Linked DNA regions of Homo sapiens. The protein of the gene in region 2 purifies or fractionates together with the protein of the main gene of each other region. This does not show direct contact. Each region holds a gene or a part of one and is shown on either strand. Other genes may lie near its edges.

The links.
Region 1: the proteins of PECR (region 2) and ACY1 purify together in Homo sapiens (affinity purification with mass spectrometry; 3 studies listed by BioGRID and IntAct, with this or other methods). This does not show direct contact.
Region 3: the proteins of PECR (region 2) and LCN1 purify together in Homo sapiens (affinity purification with mass spectrometry; 3 studies listed by BioGRID and IntAct, with this or other methods). This does not show direct contact.

The regions. Positions count from the first base shown.
Region 1 is NC_000003.12:51,979,604-51,986,569, reverse strand, and holds the start of ACY1 (aminoacylase-1), read right to left. Parts: upstream 3,036-6,966; 5' UTR 2,981-3,035; intron 2,524-2,980; coding exon of another isoform or gene 2,506-2,523; coding exon 2,412-2,505; intron 1,364-2,411; coding exon 1,299-1,363; intron 1,210-1,298; coding exon 1,105-1,209; intron 719-1,104; coding exon 624-718; intron 316-623; coding exon 239-315; intron 156-238; coding exon 66-155; intron 1-65. Other genes in the region: ABHD14A-ACY1 readthrough (NMD candidate), read right to left, coding at 66-155, 239-315, 624-718, 1,105-1,209, 1,299-1,363, 2,412-2,523; protein ABHD14A, read right to left, coding at 5,552-5,734, 5,942-6,177. UniProt on the Homo sapiens protein: Catalyzes the hydrolysis of N-acetylated amino acids to acetate and free amino acids.
Region 2 is NC_000002.12:216,064,742-216,071,847, forward strand, and holds part of PECR (peroxisomal trans-2-enoyl-CoA reductase), read right to left. Parts: intron 1,778-7,106; coding exon 1,644-1,777; intron 737-1,643; coding exon 571-736; intron 1-570. UniProt on the Homo sapiens protein: Participates in chain elongation of fatty acids. Catalyzes the reduction of trans-2-enoyl-CoAs of varying chain lengths from 6:1 to 16:1, having maximum activity with 10:1 CoA. Has no 2,4-dienoyl-CoA reductase activity.
Region 3 is NC_000009.12:135,517,384-135,524,493, forward strand, and holds the start of LCN1 (lipocalin-1 isoform 1 precursor), read left to right. Parts: upstream 1-4,056; 5' UTR 4,057-4,114; coding exon 4,115-4,204; intron 4,205-4,663; coding exon 4,664-4,794; intron 4,795-5,848; coding exon 5,849-5,919; intron 5,920-6,496; coding exon 6,497-6,607; exon of another isoform or gene 6,608-7,110. UniProt on the Homo sapiens protein: Could play a role in taste reception. Could be necessary for the concentration and delivery of sapid molecules in the gustatory system.

The DNA.
Region 1 (6,966 bases), on a different chromosome or scaffold from region 2:
CTCAGTCCCCACTAGCAGCCTCCTACTCCCTGCCTGGCTGCTCATTGGCTTGCCAACCTGCTCACCCTCATCCAGGGCAAAGCCTGCCCTCAGGGCGTGGAACTCAGGCCGCTGCACGAACAGCTCCATGCCTTGGTGACCCCCAACCTCCTCATCTGTAAAAGCAGCAGGGACGTGAGATGAGGAGGCTGCCCCGCCCCACCCTCCCCTTTCCCAAAGGTATCTGAGCCACTCCTACCAGGCACAAAGGTCATGTGGATGGTTCTGGGGAACCGGTGGCCCTCCACCTTCAGCCTCCTCACAGCTTCCAGGTACCTGAGGGGGCATAAGCCAGGTGCTGGGGGAGCCACCAGATGCGCAGGCTGGCCCCACAGGCAGGGCCAGCAGGCTGGAGTCCTGTGTCCTGGACTTTACCCTGCCACACCCTGATAGGGACTCCAGAAAGTCCCTGCCCCTCTCTGGTCTGAATCTCCCTATCCATGCAATGGTCATGGCAGTAGTTCCTGTCCAAGAGGTCACGGTGTTCCTTGGCCTTGAGTTTCTCCAATCACCCCCTCAGGTCCTGCTTCAATCCACTGGACCAGTGGGGACATTGTGGAGGAGTAGGAATGGAGGACACTCACTGGATGCTGACGCACTTCATGTCCTGGGCACCCCTGGCATAGATGTAGCCCTCAGAATCCTTGAAGGCCTCAAAGGGGTCGTGACTCCAATGTTCCTGGGGGCAGGGATGGGAAGAGGGGCCCAAACCCCAAATTTAGCCATTAATCCACTCTGGTCAACAGTGGCCCTGCCCTAGGAGCCCACCATAGGGTTGGAGTGACAGGTGGAGTGGTGGGAGAGGAAAGACGGGGGCTGAAGAAGGCAGCTGATTGCCATCCCCCATTGCTGTCTCCTGCTTCCCACCCCCCAGTCCCCACCCCACTCTGGCCCAGAACTTGCTGCTGGATGAAGGCTGCTTGAGTGGTGTAATGTCATAAGGATGTTGAGAGTTAGTGTCAGGACTGGGGCCAGGACCATGAGCAACTTGAGGTTGAATCCTGGGGTCTGCATCATGTCTGTCCCCAAGGCCTGCACTGCCCACCTCCCCAGCCCCTTACACACCTTGAAGACAGGCACCACATCCGTGTGGGAGTTGAGCAAGATGGAGGAGAGTGTAGGGTTGGTGCCTGGCCAGGTCAACACGGTCACCACATAGCCAGGTGCCACCTGGAGATGGTCAGGAGGGTAGGTGGTCTGAGCAGGGTGAGGAAGTGCCCAGGCCCACCTCCCTTCCCCGCTTAGGGCCCCAGGCTCACCTCTACTTTCTGACAGCCCAGGCCCAGCTGGCGGGCTGTCTCCTCAAAGAAAGCCACAGCAGCTCCTGGAGGCACAGAGTGTCTTGGGGCTGCTTCTGCCTACCCACAGCTTCCCACCAGCCCAGGCAGCCCGGAGAGTGGAGCATACCCAGAAATGGGCTGCTGCCTCCCCGACACACTCCATATCCCTCAGAGATGCTTGCATTTCCATCCCCAAGAAAGAAGATATTTTTGGCTACTCAGTGACCCTTTCTGGAAGTCCAGGGGGATGTCTGGACACAGGGTTGGAGGAAGGTGTTATCTTCCTTAAATATGGGAAACTATGGCACAGAGACATGAAGAGATTCACCCACCATCTCTCAGCTGATTAATCACAGAGGAGGAATTTGGACCCATGTACACAATTCCCAGCCACTAAGTTTTTTTTTTTTCTTTTCCTTTTTTTTTTTTTTTTTTTGAGACAGGGTCTCACTCTGTCACCAAGGCAGGAGTGAAGTGGTGCGATCTCGGCTCACTGCAGCCTCAACCTCCCAGGCTCAAGCGATCCTCCCACCTCAACCTCTGGAGTAGCTGGGACTACAGGTGTGCCACCATTCCTGACTAATTTTTGTATTTTTTCTGTAGAGACAGAGTCTTGCCATGTTGCTCAAGCTAGTCTTGAACTCCTGGGCCCAAGCAATCTGCCAGCCTCAACCTCCTGAAGTGCTGGGATAACAGGCAGGAGCCACCTCCCAGGCCCTAGCCACCAAGCTTGACTCCCTAAGGGCTGTGGCCTTTGTCCAGCCCCAGTGGGCTTCTGGAGGGCCTCTCCTTTCCCTGTGGCTGCCTCAGGCTTCCCCCACCACTCCTGCCCTGGAGAGTGAGGTGAAGTTTTTCTTTAACCAGCTGCCAGGAGTAACCTTGGTCAGCAGCAGAGTCTCTGGGGAAAGGGTTCCTCCCTAACCTGGAGGGGCTGCCTCAGTCTATTTACTTGGGGAATGGCTGGAGGGGTTGGGGAGCCATTTGGGACAGCAGAGTGGGGCTCAGCTGGGTGACAGGGGTTGGAGGCTGGTTTAGAGCACAGTCCCCGTCCCTTAGGCCCCGTCACAGGCTCTGGAACCACCGTCTTCTCACCATAGTCAGGCTTGGGCTGGACAGTGCGGATACGCAGGTACTGGCGGAAGAGCGTCACCGATGGGTGCTCCTCCTCGGGACCCTTGCTGGTCATGGCGCTGCGCGTGGTGAGCTGGGGGCAAAGTGAATGGCTAACTACCCCTCCAAGACCCTGGAAATGGTGAGCTCCTGCACACAGCCTGTCCCCACGGCGGCTCCCGGACTTCCCACAGGGGTAGGATACCGTGTTTCGGAGCCCCCATTAAGGAGCACCCATTCTGTTTCAGGCGCTGGGCTGTCTGCTTCCAGCACATTTCCTTATTTAATCCCCAAAAGAGCCCCATGAAGTTTGTGCTCAGAATGCCCACTTTACAGAGGAGAAAGCTGAGAGGCTCAGAGAGGTTCAAGGACAGCTCATAGAGTAGCTGAGCAAGGTTTGAACCCAGACTTGTACTCCCCCCGCCCTCCTAAAAAAAAAAAAAGGCAAAAACAAAAACAAAAAACAAACAAGAAAAACCCCAACGCCTCCCAGTTGCCCGGCTTTCAAGCCACGGAGCCCCAGTCCCTCTATCCCTCCCCAGGGCCCCCACCTCACTCTCCTGTCGCTGGGCTCACGCTCGCCTCTCAGCGCCCTTCCCTGACTGTGGCCTGGACTTAGGGTCCAGCGAGGTCGCCTGCGAGGTCGCAGGCTCAGGACCGCCCCGGTCCGCCCACCACGTGGCCGAGGCCGGATGTCGGGGCGGAGACCGAAGACCGTCAGTGAGGGCCGTCCCGGCGCCAGCGGCCGCGTCGGCGCGGATGTCCCCGCCCGCCTCTGGTTCGGGCCTCAGCGAGATTACTGGAGGATTAGATCCGGATCCCGTCCCCGGGCAGCGGCCGCCGCGGCCAGCGCCGCCCCGCGAGTTGCGAGCTCCGGGCTGGCCCTGCTCTGACAGGCTCGCCCCGCCCCACACGACACGCCTGCCACTCCTGCCCCCAGGTATGCGCCGGGAGCTCAGGACGGTCCCGTCCCCTAAGGGCGCCTCCTCCTTCAGCCCCCGGATAGGGCGGGAGGAAAGGGGGCCGCCCCGAGGCTCTCAAGATGCAGAGCTGCAAAGCCCTGGGCCTGCGCCCTCGCCCTCCTCGGCAAGTCTCCAACGGCTCCCCACTGCAGGCCTCAGCCCCTCGGGGAGGTCCTCCCTGACGCCTCAGCTCCACTTGTACTGAAGTTATTGGCCAATGTCTGTCTGCCCACACTGAACTCCAGGAGGCTGTGAGCTCCACTTCCTGCAAGGTTCTGCCCGGGGCCGTGCCGAGCCCGGACAGTGCCTAGAATGGGAATGAATGCATGGACAAGAGCACGTGTGACGGTTTAAGCGTGCCACTGCGTGTGCAGTCTATCAGTGGATATGATTGTGTATGTGACAGTGTGAGATGGTGGGTGGGTGTGATGAAGTCACTGTGAATGGATGTAATTGTGACCCTGGATGGACAGTGTGAGGAAACTGGCTCTTCTGCAGCCACCAGAGGGGGAGGCTAAACAGGCACAGGTGTACCACTGGCCCCCTGCAGGCCACAGCTGCAGTTGCCCACTTGTGCCCCAGCTGCCCTTTGTACTCCCAGCCAGGTCTGCCCTCTGCTCCAGGGGCTGAGTCAGCTTGGGGAAGGGTGAGGGACAAAGACTTCAATCTCTAGGCCAAGGAGGCACGCTGTGGGAAGGGTTCTGTCCCACCTTTCCTGAGGTTTAAGTCTTGGCTGCTCACACATAACATGGGGGCAAATGGACTTTAACTCATAACAATGCTGGATAATTCTTTATTTAGTTATTTTTTTGATACAGAGTCTCACTCTGTCATGCGGGCAAATAGATTTTAACTCACAACAATGCTGGCTAATTATTTACCTATTTATTCATGCGGGCAAATAGACTTTAACTCATAACAATGCTGGCTAATTATTTAGCTATTTATTTTTTTGAGATGGAGTCTCACTCTGCTGCCCAGGCTGGAGTGCAGTGGCTCCTTCTCGGCTCGCTGAAAACTCCGCCTCCTGGGTTCAAGTGATTCTCCTGCCTCAGCCTCCAGAGTAGCTGGGATTACAGGTGCGTGCCACCACGCTGGGCTAATTTTTGTATTTTTAGTAGAGACAGGGTTTGTCATGTTGGCCAGGGTGGTCTTGAACTCCTGACCTCAGGTGATCCACCCGCCTTGGCCTCCCAAGGTGCTGGGATTACAGATGTGAGCCACAGTGCCCAGCTAATGCTGGTTTTTTTTTTTTTTTTTTTTTTTTTTTTTTTTTTTTTTTTTGAGACGGAGTCTCACTCGCTTTGTCACCCAGGGTGGAGTGCAGTGGTGTGATCTCGGTCTTGGCTCACTGCAAGCTCCGCCTCCCGGGTTCACACCATTCTCCTGCCTCAGCCTACTGAGTAGCTGGGACTAAAGTCACCCGCCACCACGCTCGGCTAATTTTTTGTATTTTTAGTAGAGACGGGTTTTCACCGTGTTAGTCAGGATGGTCTCGATCTCCTGACCTCGTGATCCGCCTGCCTCGGCCTCCCAAAGTGCTGGGATTACAGGTGTGAGCCACTGCGCCCGGCCAATGCTGGCTAATTGTTAAATCGCGTTCCCCATACCCTCTAGGTTCCTGACTTCCTTGGCTTGGCTGTCCAGACCCTGGATTTCCCACCAATCCCTGTGGTCATGCAGCAGCAGTAATACACCCCGCCTCCCACCAGCAATTCCCCAGCCTTATGTGGCCAAGTACTCAGTTATCCAGACTCATTCAGTCCTATAACCACCCTCCAACCTAGGTGTTGCCATCATACCCGTTTTACAGATAAGGAAACTCAGGCACAGAGTGGTGAGGCCAGGCACTTAGGAAGTGGCGCATTCTTAGCCTTCTCAGACTGCTGGACATCCCCTCCAGCTCCCAGGCCCAAAGTAGTCCCAGACTTGCCTCCCACTCCCGTCTTTCCCACAGCACACCAGGAAACGGAACCTGTCACTTCCCAGGCAGGACAAATATGCTTTTTTATTGTGTCTGTGAGATGAAATGAGGAGTCCTGGCTGGGTCTGACCCTGGCCTCTGGCCTCCAATCCCAGAGGCTGTCTCCCTGGTTCAGGGAGGGTGGCGGTCCAGACTGTCCAAGCTCATGCCAGGCTGGGAGCTGGGAGTGGGTTAGTTCAAGGTAGATGGTCAAGGAAGGCAAGCAGGACAAGGTGGAAGTCTTGCGGCTTGTGGAGGTAACAGGCATGGCCTGCATTGCGTAGCTTCACCACAGAGTGGTTGGGCAGGTGGCGGAGCTGCCGCAGTGACTCTCGAGCCAGGATGTGGTCCAGCTCTCCATACAGGATAAGGGTTGGAGTCTGCAGGGCAAGGCAGGGGGCTGTGATCTTGGGGCCTGATGAGTTTCTGACCCCCAAGCCACTTCCTAGGAAGCCTTCCCCAACACCATCCAACTCTTCCATCCAAGGTCAGGGATAAGGCCATGTCCCTCCAAGTAAGACTTGAGTCCTGAACCCCCCCAAGCCACAGACAGGGTGCCAGGACCTTTGAGATCCTTCTCCCAGTACCTTCACAGCCCAGAATTGCTCCTGGGTGTAGTTCTGGGTGGAGGTGGGTGCGATGGGCACAAATCCATGTAGCTGGTGGTGGCCTCGCATCAGGAAGGGCAGGGCATAGTGGCCACTCAGCGAGGGGCTCACCAACACGGCATTCTGTACCTCCAGGTCCCGCAGCGCCCGCTCCAGCAGCGCTGCCCGCCCTGCCTCTGTGCTTGCCTCCTTTGAAGGTGCCGAGTTCCCAAAACCTAGGAACAGCAGCAGGTACCAGCTGAGGGGCACTGGGAAGGGGCACAGGACTTCCTGCCCACCACAGTGGGGGAAAAAGTTGGGGACCACTGGCACTGGCACACACTACCTAAAACTGCCCAGAAGCTATTTTCTGGTAATGTAATATGCCTGTTAGAAAAGCATATCTTGGCCGAGAGTGGTGGCTCACGCCTGTAATCCCAGCACTTTGGGAGGCCGAGGCGGGCAGATCACGAGGTTAGGAGATCGAGACCATCCTGGCTAACACGGTGAAACTCCGTCTCTACTAAAAATACAAAAAATTAGCCAGGCGAGGTGGCGGGCACCTGTAGTCCCAGCTACGCAGGAGGCTGAGGCAGGAGAATGGCATGAACCCCGGGGGGCGGAGCCTGCAGTGAGCCGAGATCATGCCACTGCACTCTAGCCTGGGCGACTGCGAGACTCTGTCTAAAAAAAAAATAAAATAAAATAAAAAATAAATAATACCCAGTGTTGGGGGAGACATGGGGAAATGGGCACTTTCATACATGACAGATGGGAAGATAAATCCATATAGTGTTTTTGGAGGGTGAGATAGTAGTTATCTAAATTTAAAAATGCATGTCCTGGCAGCTGGGCGCGGTGGCTCATGCCTGTAATCCCAGCACTTTGGGAGGCCGAGGTGGCGGATCATGAGGTCAGGAGTTTGAGACCAGCCTGACCAACATGGTGAAACCCTGTCTCTACTAAAAATACAAAAATTAGCCAGGCATGGTGGGGCGCACCTGTAATCCCAGCTACTCAGGAGA
Region 2 (7,106 bases):
TTCATGTTGGCATGAAGACCCTTTGAGATAGGGTTGTACTTGTTCTGTATTTTTCATCATAAGAAGATTTGGGTAGTTTTTACAAAATCTCTTGAGTTACCCAACTCAGGAGTTCAGTACTAACCACCCACGAAACATGACCTTTAATCCAAAGACTATGTATGCATGCTAATTAGTTGTTAGAGAGCATACAGACTCTGTCTCTGGTATTCTCCCTGAATTTATTAATTGGTTCTGCTAAAAGATTTAATAGATTCATTCTTAAAAACAGAGTAAGTGTGAGAGTTTTCTCCAATTTTATGAACAAATTAATAGCTAAATCTATGTACAGATCATTAATAATTTTCTCATAATAAATTCCAAGAAATAAAATGATGAGATTGAAGGATATCCACATTTTATAAATATTGCCAAATTACTATACTGAAATGTACCAATTTACATTCCTATGTTGTAAGTGAGAAAATCCAGCCAATAAATGTTAATGACATGGGGCTTCTGAGTCCCTAATAGGAATCCTGAGATCTCTAAATAAAGACATGTTGACTTGTGGATACTGATGGTACTTGCCTGCTTTGCACATGTAGAAGGTACCCGTCAGGTTGGTCTCAAGCACAGCGTGCCATCCCTTAGAACTGATGTGTTCAGCAGGGGAAAGAAACTGGCCTCCTCCATTGTTCACCAAGAAATTGATCTTACCAAAAGTATCTAAGGTAGATTTGACCAAATTATTCACCTAAAGAAGAACAGTAGAAGTTACTAAAAGGAAAAGTTTAATAGCCTAACTTGCTACCTCGCCTGATTGATTGCTCTAGACAGAGTTTGCAATCTCTCACAGTGAACAGTCACTCCAAGTGCCACAATGAATGAACATGCAGCAATGAATAAGACTAAAAATCCTACACCAATGAGTAATGTACCAGCACCCAATACCCACAGATCACAAAGCTAAAACTGTAATTTTGACGACAAGATATATCCAAGGGCCTGGAACACCCTTGAGTAGGGCAGGCCTCTGTCATATATTAATTTGACAGCTACCAACCCAGAATAAACAGTGATGAAATCAGATTAAAATGAACATTAAAAAATGACTTAAAGGGCAAGGCACGGTGGCTCACACCTGTAATCCTAGCACTTCGGGAGGCCGAGGCAGGCAGATCACCTGAGGTCAGAAGTTTGAGACCAGCCTGGCCAACACGGTGAAACCCGTCTTTATGAAAAATACAAAAATTAGCTGGGCATGGTGGCATGCACCTATAGTCCCAGCTACTCAGGAGGCTGAGTCAGGAGAATTGCTTGAACCTGGGAGGTGTAGGTTGCAGTGAGCCGATATAGTGCCACTGCCTTTCAGCCTGGGCAACAGAGGAAGACTTTGTCTCAAAAAAATAAAAATAAAAATGAAGACTTAAAGGACAAAAGGCCATCTTTAGCTGGACCACATTCTTGCCTCCCTTCCTCTCCTTCTCCAGGATTCGCCGGCTCAGTAAATCATTAACATGAGAATCTCTTTCACAGCCTCTGCTTCTAGTGAGCCTCATCTAAGACAGCTACAATAGGAGAACCTGAAGCATAGCCAGGTTTAAGAAACACTACTGCAAATTACAATGAATGAATAAATGATACAGATATATCTCCATTACCTCCTCCTCATTCCGGATGTTGCATTGTATGGGAATGACTCGTGCCTGCTTTGTGGGAGGTAGGTTGGCCTGCAGTTCATCTGCCGCAGACTTCAATCTCTCCAACTTACGGGATGCAATGACCACATTACTCCCTGAGGAGAAACAGCCAGAGAACAAATAAATATGCCTTCATGGGATGCAATGACCACATTACACCTTGAAAAGTAAACCGCCAGGGAACAAATAAATATGCCTTCATGAGTTGTCCAAATTCCAACAATAATAATATTGAAAAAATATATCATGTGTTCCATTTTTTAAAGTATTTTTTATTTTAGAGTCAAGGTCTCACCCTGTTGCTCAGGCTAGAGTGCAGTGGCTTGATCATAGCTCACTGTAACCTTGAACTTCTCCCGGGCTAAAGCAATCCTCCCACCTGGCCTCCCAAAGTTCTGGGACTACAGGCACAAGTCACTGCACCTGGCCATGCGTGTTCCTATGTCTTAAAAAAAAGCTGAATTAGGATTTTTGCTTCTGGACAAGATGGAGTAGTAGAAACTGAATTTGCCCTCCATCCTGAAATAACTAAAAAATTGGACAAAATATATGAAATGATGGTTTTCTGGCACTGGACATCTAGTAGCACTGGATGGTCATCTCTGGGACAGTGAAATCAAACATGAGCCCTTGGATTGCCCCAGCTTGCTGCCTGGAGAAAGGTTCTACACTGCAGCAAGGGAGGGGAACACATTCAGAGACCAAAGTCTCCCTGGCGGAAGAGATGAAGTTGGGAGTCTAGGGAGCCAAGGCAGTGAGATTGCCCAGGGGATAGGGAGAAAAGATATACAGAGAGCGAGAACTCCAGAGATCTGCAGAGTCTCTCTGGAATCTTCACCTGAGTACCAATCGATGCTTGGGAATAAATCAAAGAGGAAAGAACTACCAAAAATGGGCAGGGAGATCAAACCCTGGCACTCACACAGCACTGGGAATGGTTAGTGTGCCCACCAGAAAAAAACCTTTCACGGGGCATTCGGTAAAATATGCAGAAGCAGATGGCTTCTGCAGTGAGGCAAAATTCACCATAGACTAAAGGCTGCTCAGATCAAGCCTCTTTTAGAGTATCAAATTGTTTTCAAGTGACCTAACTGTATCCCAGAACAAAGCTCAAGAATATATACATATTTTTTCTTTTTCTTTTTTTTTTTTGAGACGGAGTCTCACTCTGTCGCCAGACTGGGGTGCAGTGGCATGATCTCAGCTCACTGCAACCTCCACCTCCCGGGTTCAAGTGATTCTCCTGCCTCAGCCCCCCAAGTAGCTGCGACTACAGGCGTGCACCACCAGGCCTGGCTAATTTTTGTATTTTTAGTAGAGATGGGGTTTCACCATGTTGGCCAGGGTGGTCCCAATCTCTTGCGCCTGTCTAAGAATATTTATAAGAATATAAAAATAGCCAACATCCATCAAGGTCAAATTCAGTATATGGCATCCAACAAAAAGAACTACCAGGCATGCCAAGGAACAGGAAAATAGCAGCACATAATTAGGAGAAAAGTCAATTAATAAAAACAGACCCAGGCCGGACGCAGTGGCTCACACCTGTAATCCCAGCACTTTGGGAGGCTGAGGCGGGCCGATCATGAGGTCAGGAGTTTGAGACCAGCCTGACCAACATGGTGAAACCCTGTCTCTACTAAAAATACAAAAAGTAGCCAGTCCTGGTGGCATGTGCCTGTAATCTCAGCTACTCAGGAGGCTGAGGCAGGATAATTGCTTGAACCCGGGAGGCAGATGTTACAGGAGCTGAGATCGCCCCACTGCACTCCAGCCTGAGTGACAGAGCAAGACTCCATATCAAAAAAAAAAAAAAAAAAAAAAACCGGAACCAGAAATGACACTGATGATATAATTAAATAGACCAGTGATGAAGAGAAAAATCTTAAAAGCAGCCAGAGAAAAACAACACATTAAGTATACAACAAGAAAGATAAAGACTTCTTTCAGAAACAATGCAAGCCAGAAGACACTGAAACATCTTTACGGTATGGAAAGCAATGAAAAAGATGGTGAACCTAGAAATCTTAACCCAGTGAAAATATCTCTCAAAAATGATGGCAAAATAAAGACTTTTTCACACATATGAAAGCTGGAAGAATTCATCAAGGTGATCTGCACTACAAAAAAGATGAAAGGAAGTCCTTCAAGTAGAAGGAAAATGATGCCAGATAAAAATCTAAAAATATACAGAAGAAGAAAGAGAACTAAAAATGGTTCGTGTGTTTGTTTTTGAGACAGGGTCTTACTCTGTTGCCTAGGCTGGTGTGCAGTGGCGATCTTGGCACACTGCAGCCTTGACCTTCCAGGATCCACTGATCCTCCCACCCCAGCCTCCCGAGTAGCTGGGACCACAGACATACACCACCATATCTGGCCAATTTTTTTTTTTTTTTTTTTTTTTTTTTAGTAGAGATGAGGTCTATGTTGCAGAAATAGTAATTATGTGAGTAAATATAAAGACTTTTCTTGTTTCTATTCAGATCTCTTTAAAGGTATAGTTCAAAGCAAAAATAATAACAACATATTGTAAGATTTATAACATATGTAGAAATAAAATGATTCCCTCCTTCTCCTTGAGAATAATAGCACAATGGCTAAGAAGGGGAAATGGAAGTAGAGACGGTCCTTCTTTTGCTCTGCTCCAATATGCTCTGATTTCAGTTAGCTTAGCTTAAAGACACCAGTCTCTCAACAACATGGTTCAAATTTCAACAACCATGGTATATTAACTGTAACTGCATAAAATGCAAACTTTACTGCTAGCTTTTCAACCCACAAATCATAAATAACAGATGCACATCAAGATCAGTGATTAATCATGTCATTTCTTCCAGCGTCTATCAGTGAATGCCCACTGTGCATCTCTTCTTCAGTTCAGAAGAGCTCAGACAGCAAATAATATAGCTGTGTCACCTCCTGGTCTTTCAACAAGAAACCCAAGTGACATTTTATAAAAACACATGATCTAAGGGGGGACTGGCCAACAAACATGAAAAGTGAGACCAAGAAATGAAAATTTGTAACACTGGAAGCGAAATTAGAATGCATGTCAGGGGAATTATAAAAGGGGAATGCGTGACACTGCTGCCAGTCTAGAAACTACAGAAAGCCAAAAGATCTTACTGAAGGCAAACTTAACATCATGAGGAAAGTGCCTGTGACAAAGAAGATGAAGATATCCCAGAGGAAGTGATGCCCACAAAAAACTTCAGATTAAAGACACTTTTGGGGCCAGGCATGGTGGCTCACTTCTGTAATCCCAGCACTTTGGGAGGTCGAGGTGGGCGGATCACAAGGTCAGCAGTTCGAGACCAGCTTGACCAACATGGCAAAACCCCTTTTCTACTAAAAATACAAAAATTAGCCAGGTGTGGTGGTGGGCGCCTGTAATCCCAGCTACTCCGGAGGCTGAGGCAGGAAAATTGCTTGAACCCAGGAGGCAGAGGTTGTAGTGAGCTGAGATCGTGCCATTGCACCCCAGCCTGGGTGACAAGAGCAAGACTCTGTCAAAAAAAAAAAAAAAAAAGAAACTTTTGGAAATATTTCATGACATTGAAAGTATAAAGGATAAAATGTTGGAAGCTGATCGAAACATAGAAAGGAGTACAATAATTTAACAAGGTACAGAAAAAAATGCTTGCTCTATATCATAAGGTATACAATGAGAAGGCAAGCACTAATCGAATGACTCGACACACTTCACATGAAAATAAAACAGTTTAATTTTCAATACTGAGGTTTTTAAATTTTTATTTTTAACTGACAAATAACTATACATCTATGGGGTAAAATGTGATATTTTGATATATAAATATATTGTGGAATGATGAAATCAGGCTAATGTATCTATCACCTCTTATCATTTCTTTGAGCTAAGAACCACTTTGAGCTAAATCCACTATTCTCGGAATTTTGAAATACACAATGCATTACTAACTATAGCCATCATGCTGTGCAATAGATCATCAGAACTTATTCCTCCTGTCTAAATGAAACTTTGTACTCTTTGACCAACATCTCCCCAGTGAAACTGGTCTACTTTTATTATTTTTTTCATGTCCCTCTGTGGCAGACTGCCATGGTTACTACTTGAGACCGTCACTACGACAGTTACTACTGTTACTACTTACTATTTGAGACGGTCATTACGACACTGAACGAAGGAGGATGAACGCAGAAATGAAAACTTAAAACAAAAGAAACTGTTTTAAAGGAAGGGGCCAGGGGAAGAAGAAGAGGGTTCCCTGCTTCTACTGAGTAAAGGCAGCAACCTTGAGCTCCTACGGCCTTTTGTATTTATTGGGTAGAAAGAGCAGGGAGGAGCAGGTAACATTTGGTCAGCTGCTTAACTGATCACAGGTTCACATTATTGCTAACAGGCTTCAGATGTGCCTCATCACAAGAAACACTTGCGCCTGGGTCGTGACTGCCCTCAGCATTCCTTCAAGGGTGGCAGACGCAGTTTGTCATTTGCCAACATTCTGCATTTATGAGAACAGTTTGCTGTTTGCTCATATACCCTCCAGCGGTATACTGAGTTGATCACGACCCTCACTCTTTCAGCCTGCAACATCTCTCCCTTTTTGTTTTTGAATTAATTGAGACAGGTAATTGCAAAATGTGCAGCCTTGGTGGTTCATTCCGTCTTCGCATTCAGCTCATACTGGGGGAACCGGGCCCATGGTTGGGATCCATGGGTCGCTCTAGTCTCCCGTTCTGTGGTCGCACACACCTTGAGGGCACCCACACAGTTTGTTCATCTCCTGCAAAAACGCAAGCGTACCCTTATCCCCACGTCAGTAAATCTACCAAAACAGAAGCAAAGGCTTTTGTGGCTGTGGCCAGGAGGCATGCCGTTGCCAAAGCATCTGCTCCACAAGCTGTAACTCAGCTTCTGCCTCTTTGGTTAATTACCACGGGGTAAACTTCTCATTGATAAGGAGAGGCAGGCTCTCTCTGATTAACAGAAGGCACATGGAAAGCAAATTGAAGCTCATCCTTCTCGTGCAACAGTATAGCAAAGAAAAAAAATCATTAAGCCTTCAATTTGTACTGTACAGGTGAGTCCATTAAATGTTATGGGTTGTGATAGATAAATCTCTCTCCTAGTTGTACTTTCAAATCCTTGATTCCCTCGCTTCTCCCTTCGTGGAGAAGGGTGCAACTTACAGGGAACAAGCAATAGTTGTGCAATATATTCTCCTGGTTCAAAAACCCAAAGTTCTTGTGACATTACCACTACTGGAATTTCCTCTTCACAATCAAAATCAACAACTCCTGGGGCTACAGTAACGCCCTGCAAGTTAAGATGACTTTTGCCCAAAACTCTCTATTTGTCTCTATTTAACTCTACCTCTATTTCTATTTATCCCTACTTATCTCTATTTGTCCCTGCAGGCCTCTTTAGGTCCCTTCAGGTCT
Region 3 (7,110 bases), on a different chromosome or scaffold from region 2:
TTTTTCATAAATAGAATGGAAAGGTAACTCAGCCTTCCCGCTGACGTGAGGTTCAGGTTGGTTTCTCATCATCAGTTGGGGGCTGCGTGACACACGCGGCCGCCGTCACGATGTGCATGTGGTGATGCTGCCACGGGCATCTGCCCCGTAAGCAGCAGCTCCGATCAATTCTCCTTTGCGAGGTGACCACCAAAGGACTGCAGAGCTGGCCGGGGCATTCGTGCGTGTTCATGACCGAGAACTTTTCACACAGAGAGGACTTCCGTCTTGACGAAGGAGCGCAGAGCTGGCCGGGCATTCGTGCATGTTCATGACCGAGAACTTTTCACACAGAGAGAGAAGACTTGTGTCCTGACGAAGGACCACAGAGCTGGCCGGGGCATAAATGCCTGTTCATGACCAAGAACTTTTCACACAGAGAGAGAGGACTTCTGTCCTGACGAAGGAGCGCAGAGCTGGCCGGGGGCATACGTGCGTGCTCATGACCGAGAACTTTTCACAGAGAGAGGACTTCTGTCCTGACATCTTTATTGTATTATAGATGCGTTTAAGGCTGTAAACTTGAAGTTTATATTTCTCTTTATGTAACAGTCTCTTCATTGTCGATTCTAGTTTATTGCCTTGTAGCTACAAAGGGCAGGCTCTGCTGCGTTAGTTCTGTGAAGTTCCCCATATTGCCTGGTATGTGGCCTATTTTAAAACTATTCCATGTGTATTTAATAAGAATTAGCAACTAAAATTTTTCATTGTAACAATTATAACAATATAATTGTTTAGCTTTTGAGGCAGTGTCTTTGTATACTTTACAATGTTGGTGCCAAAGCTCCAACATTGCTGTGAACTTTTAACACCCTCGCCCTCTGTTTCTAATGGAGAAGTTCTGGCGTCTCCCGTTCCGACTGTGTATTTGACCCCTTTGTTCTTCAGTCTGTTTTGGCTTCCTGCATTTTGATGCGGTATGCCTTCACATTCATGAACATTCGTCTTCTTGTGATTGTGCTTTTAATTGTTTTCATGTTGGCGCCCTTTTCATCTATACTGATGAAAAATAAATCATGCTTTTGTCTAACAGGCTTGTTTATGTATTTTGAAAATTTATTATCCCTGCCCACCCCTTTCCACTTCCCTCTCCATGCATCGCTATTCTCCCGTGCTTAACGTGCATCTTTTTGTTCATATGAACCCATGCATGTGGGCACAAGTGTGTTTTGTGTGTGCATTCTTGTTCATATGAACCCATGCGTGTGGGCACAAGTGTGTTTTGTGTGCATTCTTGTTCGTATGAACCCATGCATGTGGGCACAAGTGTGTTTTGTGTGCATTTAGCACTCTTTAAATATGCACTGAAACAGAACCTTTCCCCCACCATCAAAGTCTGCACCATTTGTGTTTGTACAGCCAGCAGGTAGTTTGCCTTGCTGACATCATTTATCCCCCTGACCTCGGTCTCCTATAGACTTGCTAAAATTCTCCCTTTCAAATTTCCTTTGATGGAGACCAGTGAGTGGTAGACGCTCTCAGTTGTTGTTGTTGTTTAATTTTTATTATTATTATTTTTTCGAGATGGAGTCTTGCTCTGTTGCCCAGGCTGGAGTGCAGTGGCATGATCTCAGCTCATTGCAACCTCTGCCTCCCAGGTTCAAGCAATTCTCCTGCCTTTGCCTCCTGAGTAGCTGGGATTACAGGTGCACGCCACCATGCCTGGCTAATTTTTGTATTTTTAGTCAAGATGGGGTTTCACCATGTTGGTCAGGTTGGTCTCAAACTCCTGACCTCACCTTGGCTTCCCAGAGTGCTGGTATTACAGGCATGAGCCACCACACTGGGCCTCAGTTGTTTTTTAATGTCCGAGATGTCTTTATTTTGCCTTCAATATTTTATGAAAGTTGCACTGAGAATAACATTCACAGGTAAATGTGATTTCTCCCGGGTCTGTTAAAGACGTCACTCCACTGTCTTCCGGAAGGCAGCGTTGCTATTGAGAGGTCTGCCATCAGTCCACATCCGCTTTTATGGTATGTAGTGTGGCTCTTCTTTCTGGTCATTTTGACTTTTTTTCTCCTTTCCTGGATGATCTGCATTTCACTGTAATATTCTAGGAGTGGATTTCTCAATTTTGATCATTCCTTGGTAATTTAGATCTGGGGTGTCATCTTCATGTCTTTTCAATTCTGAAGAATTCTGAGCTATTCTGTTGCTTTGTTGCCATTTTAGAAAATGTTTTTCTTTCAGAACTCCTATTCTGTTTATATTGGAACCTCCTGATCTATTCTCCATGTGTGTTAACTTTGTGCATGTGTGTGCATGTGTGTATGTGTGTGAGTGTGCATGTGTGTGTGTATGTGTGCATGTATGTGCATGTATGTATGAATGAATGGTGTGTGCACGCGTGTATGTCTGCGTGTGTATGTGGGTGTGCATGTGTATGGGTTTGTGTGCATTTGTATGTGTGCACATGTGTGTGTGTGCATGTGTGTGTGCGTGTGTGTGCATGTGTGTGTGTATATCTCTGTGTGTTGTGTTTTCAGAGCTGCTGCACTCTAGTTGGTTTCCTCCACTCATTTTATTACTAGCTCCAGGCTGGAGACTGAATCTATCTGTAACACCTCAATTTCTCTTTTGAATTTTTCTGCTTTCATTGATTTTGTTAGTACTATCTTCCATGACACTAAGTCTCTTTTCTACTATGTCAAGTCTGGAATTTAACCTGTCTATTGAGTTTTTTATTCACTTTATTATTCATCTTCAAGATTTGTAATTATTTCTATTTCGTCTCTCCTTATTTCTTATATTCTGGCCAGTTCTAATTTTATACTTTATATATTTTTAAATCACTAGGCATCTTGATCATACTCCTGCAGTTTTAAAGTGTGTGTCAGACTTTCCTTGGCTGGTGTAAGTTCCTGTACCAATTGCTCATTTTTAGCCTGCCTTTCTTAGTGTGGTGTTTCCTTGGGTAATTTGGAACCTGGCCTTTCTAGCTTATTTCAAGGTGAGGATATTGTGTCTCTGCATTTCTGCCTTTCTCTGCCATCTTGTTGTCACTGTCCTCTGTCTAGCAGTGTTTTGTAGCCTCTGCTCCCATCCCGGGTCCCAGGCTTCTGCTCTGCAGTGATGCAGAGCATGTCACAGATAAAGTCATCCTTTCCAAGGACGGCTTGTCTCAGCTTCTGCCCTTGAGGCTGTGTTGATGTCCTCTTGCCTTCCTATGCCCACAGTGCTCCACTAAGTTATACGAAGTTACAGCCCTGGGATGTGTCAAGGAGGGTTTCTCAGCCTTCTTTCTGGAGTCAGGGAAGCCCCTCCCATCACTCCCAGGAGCCGGACCTAGGCCCTCTCTGCCTGCCTTGGGACTTGGAGCTGACAGGCCCCTGCCTCTGCCCCATCACCAGCCTGTGCTTCTCCTCCATTCCTTGTTTTATGTGAGTGTGTGTGCGTTTGTGCATGTATATATGTACACACATGCATACACACACACACACCTGTCTTGGTCTTCTGTCTGTCTGACCTATTGCTGCTCTGTGTGTGGAGCAGAGAGGGTCGTTACTGCACACCTTGCTCAGGACAGTGGACACCGTCTTTAAATGCACACGGGATCGTGTTCACACAGGAGGGTCCCTTTTTTTCCATGATGAATCTGAGGCCAAGTAACCTGCCCAGAGATGCAGGAAGCTCAGCTGAGCCCCAAGCCCACGGCCCTCGGACTCCAACCCCAAACCCCCTTGACAGTGTGCACGTCAGCAAGTGTGGGATGGCTGGGGGGCATCTGTTACGGCTGCACACGTCCCCAGGAGGCCTGCACACCCTTCACTCCCTTCAGTTTCCCTTCAGGTGAAATCTGCAAATCTGCTCCTCTGGACCTGGTCCTGTCCAAGTGATCCTCTGGGATTAACAAGCTGTTATTCACCAGCCTCCAACAATAATGGCAGGTTATCTGCTCCATTGCAGAACTGGCAGTGGTTTACATCCAGGAAGGGATTGGTCAGTCTCCTGTGCCAGGTCCCTGGGGGACCCTGAGCCCAGCGGTATAAAGGGCGGCTGTGGGAGGACTGGTACAGCCTCTCCCAGCCCCAGCAAGCGACCTGTCAGGCGGCCGTGGACTCAGACTCCGGAGATGAAGCCCCTGCTCCTGGCCGTCAGCCTTGGCCTCATTGCTGCCCTGCAGGCCCACCACCTCCTGGCCTCAGACGAGGAGATTCAGGATGTGAGGCCCGGATGGGAAGGCTGGGCTGGAGGGGGCAAGGGGCGAGGCTGAGACTGGATGGAGACCCCATGCCTCCTCCATCCAAGGAGACCCTCGTTTTTGGGTTGGGCATTCAAGCCCTGCCCTGAGGGAATGGTGGGATGGGGCAGCAGGGGTCTGGGCTGGCAGGGTAGGTGGCGCAGGGGTGCAGAGTGGGCAGGGCTGGGAGGGTGGGGGTCTGGCTGACTTCACTTCTTCCCTGGGGATGAGGGCTCCTGTGGTCCTGGCTGGCTTGTGGGGGCTGGAGCCACCTTCAAGTGGGCCTGGCGAGGGTGCTGGGTGTTTTCTGGGTGGGTTAGATTGGGGAACGTTCCCCGTTTCCAGCCCTCGGGGTGCGGTAGAGTCTAGGGGCTGCAGGCCAGGGAAGGGGGAGGCTCTGGAGCAGTCGGCCTGAGCCTGATAGAGAGGGGCCTTCTCCAGGTGTCAGGGACGTGGTATCTGAAGGCCATGACGGTGGACAGGGAGTTCCCTGAGATGAATCTGGAATCGGTGACACCCATGACCCTCACGACCCTGGAAGGGGGCAACCTGGAAGCCAAGGTCACCATGCTGTGAGTGTCTGCCAGCCGGCCGGGCAGCCTGCAACCTGGTCTAGGGCCTTCCCTTTCCCCACCCAGGAGAGCTCTGGTGCTGGGGAGGTGGGCAGACCTGCTGGGAGGCCTCTCTCGGCCCCTCCTGCAATGCTTGAGGGCAAACTGTGCCACTGAGGTGCCTCGGCTGGAGGGGCCCTGAGGGGGCAGAGGCCCCGGATCAGACCCTGTGGGCTACCAGTGGCAGCCCTGGGTACCGCCCACTTCCTCCTCCGACTAGGGAATGTCTGGTGACGTGCAGGCCCCTTTGGGAAAAGGTGTTTACCCCCGACCAGAGTCAGAGCCAGTCCTGGCAGTAAATTTCTGCTTTGGAGAAGTGCAGGGATGGGGCTTGCAGAATGACCAAGAGGGGGCATAGGAGAAGACACCATGGAGAAGACCCCCTTGAAATCCCTGTGTAGCGCTCACCTGTGCGGCTCTCACCTGGGCTGCTTCCACCCGCGTGGCTCACATCTGTGACTTCCCACCTGTGTGATTTCACCCGCATGGCTCCCTCCTGAGTGGCATGCAGTGCCTGTGCTCCGGTCCTGGGGGCTGAATCTCAGGAAGTCACTGACCCTGGCAATGACCCCGATTTTTTTTTCCCCCAAAGCCCCTCACTGAACCTTTCCCTCTCTGGGCCAGATGATGATGGATATGGGGCTTGTGCCTGAATGTCTCTAAAAGGAAGAATGCAGCTGGCGGGATGAGGCTCAGGCCCACGCCACAGACGCTGCCTGCAAACCAGGCAGCCTGGGTGCCTCTGGCAGGAAATGTGTTGGGGGCGGGGGGTTTGGGAAGGCAGCCACCAGGAGGAGCGGTGCAGAGCTCCTGGCCATCTCGGGAGACCCCGGGAACTGCCGCATGGGACCCGGAGGGGCCGCTGGTGCCTGGGTCTGAGATGCAGAGAAGCACCCTCCTCCATGGGCCTGTGGCAGACTCGGGGCCACATTTGCAGGGCATTGCAGCATGGTTGCTCCAGGGCCGGGGGAGGCACAGGCCAGGGCCGCTTTGCCAGGGGGCTTCTGTTTTCCAGGATAAGTGGCCGGTGCCAGGAGGTGAAGGCCGTCCTGGAGAAAACTGACGAGCCGGGAAAATACACGGCCGGTGAGTCCCGGGGCCTGAGCCAGAGCCTGAGCTTGAACACACGCTGGATGTGCGGGGGCAGCCAGTGCCTTTTTGGGGTGGCCTTTTGGCCTGGGAAGCCTTTTGCTGCCTTCTGACTCCACTAAAAGCCCACTCTCTTCTCCCACTGGTCAATTTGCATTAGAGACTTGAACACCTGACCCCAAACACCAGGTGTGGCAGGTTTGTCCCGGGGCGGACCCTCTGGGCTTGCCCTGTAGCCCTGGCTGTGGCTCTGGCAGGGCCAGGAGCAGAGTCGTATTTGGCTGCGGGGGGCTGTACCCCAACTCCCACCTCCGCAGACCTCATACCCGGAGGAACCCCCCGTGACTCACTGGTTTGGGATGTGGCCGCCTCTTGGGTACATCAGGTTCCTGGGAAGTGGGGGTCCCATGGCCTGGGGCTCAGGCCTGGTGGGGAACCTGGGTCAGGGAGCTCTGGGAGGCTGGGAGGGTGCAGGAGCTGCGGGGCTTGCTGGGCCTGGCAACGCACGCTGTCCCGGGATCCTCTCTGAAGTCCCTGGTGGCTAATTCAGGAATGTGCTGCTGTCTTTCTGCAGACGGGGGCAAGCACGTGGCATACATCATCAGGTCGCACGTGAAGGACCACTACATCTTTTACTGTGAGGGCGAGCTGCACGGGAAGCCGGTCCGAGGGGTGAAGCTCGTGGGTGGGTCCCGCACCCTCACCCTGCAACCCATGCCTCCACCTGCCCTCCCTCCTCCCTCGGCCTCCTGCACCCTCTTCCCCATGGGAGAAGCCACTGGGACCCAGGAACCCACTGCAGTTTTCTTAGGATGAGTTTTCCTGATAAAGGCCTCAATTCCCACCCCTGGAGTTCAGGATTTGGGATGCCCCGGCCTCGGTATCTGCAGCAGAGGCAGGAAGGAGCCACGGCTGCAGGCACAGGGGTTCAAAGGTCACACATGTCCCAGAGTGGGCCAGGCCCTCCCCCGGAGCAGCTCCCTGCAGTGTCATCCTTGAGCGCGTTCCTGTGGGGTGTCCAGCAGGAGAGAGGAACAGGGATGTGAGCAGAAGTCTGCATGGAAAGAACGTTCCAGCTCCCGGGGTTGAATTCCGGACGCGGTGCCTCCCACAGATGGTGACTCATCAGTGCTGTCCCTGTCAGAGGACGAGGCCCATGAAGGCTCCTGAGTTCTCCCTGGAGCCAGG